2 separate regions of the Homo sapiens genome follow, and region 1 is linked to region 2. A link means that fine-mapping ties the variant in region 2 to the expression of a gene that starts in the linked region. Tissue or cell type: cerebellum. Region 2 holds a variant in brackets; the other region holds the start of a gene. All regions are shown on one strand. Distances are from middle to middle.

Region 1 (2,665 bases), 180 kb after region 2:
AAAAGCTTTCACAACGATTATTAAGTTTGATTCTCACAACAGCTTGTAAGGGATGCAAGGCAAGTATAATTAACTGCATTTACTCATTAGGAAATCGAACCAGAGATGTTAAGTGACTTGTCCAAGGTCACAGTTAGTAAGTCCCGGCTTGAATCCAGGTCTCTTGATGCCCAGTCTTCTTTCCTCTACAAAACACACTGCAACTTGGGCCCTGGACTTCAGTGACATTTGGAAACAATGATTCCAGTGATTACAGGACCCTAAATGAAAGTTCTGTTGCAAAAGCTAATGTGAAAAGGCAACTCTATTAACTGCATGTAGAAGTAATCAATATCTGGCAAAATATCTACCTACACATGAGTGTACAGTATAAAATGCCATGATTACATATATTCACAAAGGTCATCACAAATCTGCGCAGCACTCAAGTGACAGTTCTCCATAATATGTCATTCAGAGATCGCCAGACCCTGAGTATATTGATGTCAGTCTAAGAAAAGACTGCCACTTCCCTTAAACCAAACCCAGAAGGGAAAGGCTTGCCCCAGAGGATGGTAAAGACATGGAGCCTAACAAGGCTCTGCGGGATTACACGCAGGTTGCAAACTCCCAGCGATAAATGAGTACCGACCCTCCCAGCCGGTGAATCAGCTCGCGTTCATCCGGCAGCATCTTTCCCCGGGGCTCGCCACCCCCAGCGCAGCTAAACTGGGGAGCTAAAGGTGATACGGCCACCGTTTGCAGGATTCAAAATAACCTCACAGAAAGGCTAGCTGGCGGTAGAAGCGGCACTGCATACCAACACAAGACGTTATTTTAAGCGCGTGTCCCCACGAGAGAACCCATCCGATCTACTGGAGCAAGCATCTCCCACCCGCCGGGAATTTTCCAAAGCCAAGCAGGAGGGGAGGCACGCCCGCCCTGCTAAATCCACATGGGCCCCCTTTCCACTCCGAAGCCCGCTCTGCCCCCAGCTCGAGCAGCGCGGCAGGGGCCTGGGAGACCCCCGAGGCGGGCCACCTTCCGCCGCCTTCACCATCTCGCCCGAAAGAGGAAGGTGCCGCAGCGGGCGACCGGCTGGTAGGGCCGAGGGTTCTGAGGCGCTGAAGGGGATGGCGCTGGTGGGGCTCGCCTGGGCCCGGCGCTCCCGCCCCCTCCCCAGCCTGACAGCTGGCGGCGAGGGCCGCACAGCCCCAGTCCTCGACGCCGGCCGCGGGGTGCCTTACCTTTGTGTAGAGCTCCGACGCAGCCATGGCGGGCCCCGCGCGCCTACGCCCCCCGCCTGTGCGGAGGCCGCACCTCGCCTGGGCGGCCGCCCGAGCGGACTAGGAAGCGCCCGCAGCCGCCGGCAGGGAGCAGGGCAGGGCAGGGCCGGGCGGGGAGGGCCGCGCGGGGCGGGGCGGGGCGGGGCGCCTCAGGCGCTGGCCGCCCGCAGGGGCCTCGCCATCACTCCCGGGCTCGCCGCGAGCAGCCGCGAGCGCTCCACCTGCCCGGGGTCCTAGGGGTCGCCGCCGCCGCCGCAGCCACTTCGGCGGCCCGCGATGCTGCCTCCGCTGCCGCCGCCGCCACCGCCGCCGCCCTGTGCATTATGGGAGCGGGAGGAGGCTGCGCTCCAGCGCTGCCACCGCGGCTGCTCTGGGCTCTCTCGGGCTCACGCTGCCTCCCATCGGCTACGAGCACAGAGCATCATCATCATCAGCCTGCCAGCCGGCCCCGCCGCCGCCTCGCGCCCTGCCGAGGCCCGGAAACCCGCCCGGGACGTGAGCCCCGAGGGCGCGGCACACCCCGGGCGCCCCCACCCCGAAGCGAGCCCGGGGCCCTCTGCTGCGGAGCCTAGCTCCCGCGGTAGCGCAGCCATGGCACGGGCTGTTACTGTGTCCGAATAAACGATGGGAGCCTCCAGGCTGCTCCTCCCGTCCTTCCAAGCATTCCTAGGGAGAGGATTTAGGGGAAGCCCTCTTGAAAGACTGTAGAATAACCCAGGACTGTAGAAGAGCCTTGTCAGCAGCAGTGACCCGGGAGATGGGCAATGCAGGACCGGGAATTTCAGGTTAAGGTTGATCACCAAGGTCATTCCGAGCACCTCGATGTCTGCAGCAAAGTCGTCTCCCGATACCAGAGGGCAAGGGCCGCTTCTAAGCTACAGAAACTTAAGTGACTTTGAAACGAGATAGCCCGGGGACAGCCCAGGTGCCTCTTTCCTAGACCTGTGCGTTTGCGGAGATGCAACTACCCTTCTGTCCCAGCCTTCTTCCCGTCCTGTTCGCTGCTGGTGATTGTCGGCTCCATGGTGGCACCTGAAGTTTATCCGGTTGCCACCTGAAAATGACGGAGTACTTACATGGAAAATCTGTATTACAGTTTAACTCAACATCAAAAGGGCAAAGCCGCCCTCACTCTCCTCACGGTGATCCTTGAACATCCAGCACAAGAATGTGGTCTTTCTACTCCCAACCCTGCGCTGTCTTCATCCTCTATCTTCTCCCCACCCTCATTGTCGTTTCTGGTTGAATAATCTTCATTCTTTATTGTTGTCGTTGTTGTTGTTGCTGTTTTTGTTTGTTTAATCCCTGCCTCTTTGTAGTGCCCTCATCTCTCGTTTCTTTGAACTACAACTGGTCCCCAGTGCCTGTCATGGTAATCTGGTAGACCATTTCTATCACGA
Region 2 (2,845 bases):
TTAATTATTTTATATAAGAATAACTTTTTTCCAACATTTTAATTTTCTTTTTAATTTTCTCCGTTTAGTCAAATCTGTCTGACAAGCAATGTAATTTCAAAATCTTCTCCTATTCAGCTACTCTATCTTTCTAGACAAGAGTAAGAGATAAGAATCACTGCTGGCAAACCACAATGGAACATAGTTCCACACATGGAACTATGTAACAAACCTGTATATTCAGTACATGTATCCCAAAACTTAAAGCAAAAAAAGAAACCCTGCTGTGTAGCCTCTAAAAAACAATATACTTCAGAACCCAGTGGCTTTGTCTAAATGGAAACATTTCCACATAAAATTCAACTCAAAAGCTTTTGGACCACATATTTGTCTAAATAGTATATGTCTGATTCTTTAGTAAACATGATCTAAGCTCAGGCCTTGCAATGAAACAGACTTAATAAAATACACTTCAAATACCATGATCTTAAAGACAAGTTCCAAGATAACTTTAATGCCAATCAGAGACTTACAAATGCTTGTTTCTGAATTTCAATGTGTATTTTAAAAATCCTTAAAAAAAATACCACTTTTCTCTTAATGCTATCCTTTTGTAAGTTTATAAATGCTTCCTCTGAGAAGACCAACTATAATCTCATGAAATATACTAATAAATAGTTTACATTTTATTGAATTTTAAAAATCTTTCCCATTAAAACCACAGAGTATTTTTTTTAGCTATGTTTTGTAAATATTTTAGTACCTGTTTTACAAAGAGGTTCTTTTTTCTCTTTCTCTGAAAGGAATAAAATCTTTCTGTTTTATAAAGGGCCATACTCAGATTTTTAAAACCCATAAGTAATAACTTTCAAAGACCCAAGTGTTTACATCAAATAATGCTATCTGTGTGCTCTGGTATCTCAGGACTTACATGGTATGGTTGTGAACTTTTAGCAAATGAGGTAACTTGATCAAATTAACTAATCCAAGAGAAGAAAGGCTTCTTAGTATGCTTCTCTCCTGGGTGGTAAGTCACCAGTTCTTCCCTCATTCTGACTACCTTAGCTAAAAAGTGGCACTTGGGGAATGGGATCAGATTTGGGCCACCAGCATTCAGGAAGTTCCTGATTCACTGCTCAAACTTTGTCTCTCTTAAGCCTGTGACCAGAAGTTCTAAAAGGGTTGTGCTATATAGGAAAATTCCAGCAATATCTGTCACTCAGTACATAGAGAAACAGGGATATGGTAGAGAAATTTGACTTTGCAACCTCGTCAACGAGCCACATTTCATTCTAGCTGTGGACTCTACACTCAGGGAGATGAAAATGGCAGCAAAGAACAGTGTGCTCAGCTCCTCAGGCTCCCCTTCACCCTTAACCAA[C/T]AAGCCCGCCACTGGTAGATATGAGAGCTCAGGAGAGCCTGTGCTTTTGAGTGTACTCCAAGTTAAGGGCTTCCCTCCCCAGCCTGTGGACAGCCTACCAGAACTACGGCAGTGAGTCATAGAGCTGCCTATGAATTAGAAGTCATGGAGTCCCCTCTATAATCTAGACTGGAGCCTACTATAACCACTGTTTCCCTACTGACTTCCCAAATCAGAAGGAGTCAAATCGGAAATTCACTTACAAATTCAAAATATCAAAATAGACTTGGTCAGAAAGCATCAATTGCCTTTATTGGGGGATACTTGTAAACTAAAGTTAGGATTAAATAGAAGTATTTACTAAAAAAAAAAAAAGGTATAATTACCTTGTCATCCTGAGAATCACAAGTCAGCAAGCACAAAAAACAGAGAAAACAATAAACCCTTAGTTCCATAAATAAATTTCATCAATGAGTTCCTATTATAACAGATAAAAGCTAATTTAAAAACAGCCATGAGTTGTTTCTCTAAAATTAACTCTATATATACATTAACATTCCTGGAACTGTCATAAAACAGAGACTAATATATATTTATATGTTGACAACTTCTATTTCCAGGAACAAATGCTTGAAATTCTTTTAAAATTGTTTTGATTTTTCTGGTTATAAAATATCTTTGAGTATGTGAGAGAATGACCCTCCTGTTATTTGTGGGTGAAATTCTTATCGTAGGTCTGTGGAGTTAAAGTTATGTCTCTCACAGAAGTCGTTTGTCCAAGGGAAGATTCCCAGAATACTCTAGAGGTGGAGCCAATACACAAGACCTGCCTGGGCTGGATCATTCCCTAGCTCACAGGGTGTTGCTCACCACTGCCCTGCAATGGAGTGGTGACATGATGTGTCTCTCAGACTAGAAACTGAGTGAGACAAACAGCCCTGGGGAGTCTGGAAGATCTTAATTAGTGTCAAGGGCATTTCTCCTAGGATGGGACACGAGTGCTACCATGTTTAGGCTGGGAGCTGAGGAACTTAGGTACCTCAGTTGGACCGGGTCAGCCCATTAGGGTCAGGAGAGCAGCTGTCACATGGGGTACGTGAGCCGGGCAAGGGAGAATGTGTGATAGCAGAACTATGTGCTCTGTTAGCTGGACTGTTTTTATGTCCTTTGCTTCATTTTTCTTTTCCTTTCTCTTGATTTTTACTAAAATTTCTTGTGAGATTACCACATTGCAACCCCATAAATATATACAATTATTATTTGTCAATTAACATTTTTTTAAGAAAGAATACTAATTTGTCTCAAGAAAACTAGAGAAAGGAATCTTGATTTTGGACTCTGCTCAAGCTAGATTGCAAGCCTTGTTTCTTGAGGCCCAGCCACAGTGGTAGCCAAGGGAACCAACTGTGACAGCCCTGGGGTAAGGTGCAACCTATACGGCAAGCCAAAATGGGGGTTCTTCTCATTTCTGGCTTAAGGGGTTTATGATTATGATTATGATTATGA

Alleles and levels. Alleles are on the strand shown, and positions count from the first base shown. SD is a standard deviation of normalised expression in the study named.
For the expression in cerebellum of the gene that starts at base 1,327 in region 1, allele C in region 2 goes with a lower level than allele T (large effect, 0.77 SD a copy in GTEx).

What was found. PIP is the estimated chance that this variant, and not a neighbour inherited with it, causes the effect.
Region 1: MYO5A starts here. The variant in region 2 is the best candidate, but not a certain one, in a credible set for the expression of MYO5A in cerebellum (GTEx, PIP 0.58).

What each region holds. Positions count from the first base shown.
Region 1 is chr15:52,527,554-52,530,218 of GRCh38, forward strand. MYO5A (myosin VA) reads right to left here and starts at 1,327. Exons shown (of 42, transcript NM_001382347.1): 1 at 1,227-1,327. The coding sequence starts at 1,253. RefSeq lists a silencer at 977-1,856.
Region 2 is chr15:52,347,093-52,349,937 of GRCh38, forward strand. MYO5A (myosin VA) reads right to left here. Exons shown (of 42, transcript NM_001382347.1): 29 at 1,726-1,734. Among named protein-coding and RNA genes, the nearest start is that of MYO5C, 53 kb to the left of the region's middle. The variant C/T (reference allele first, on the strand shown) is at 1,361.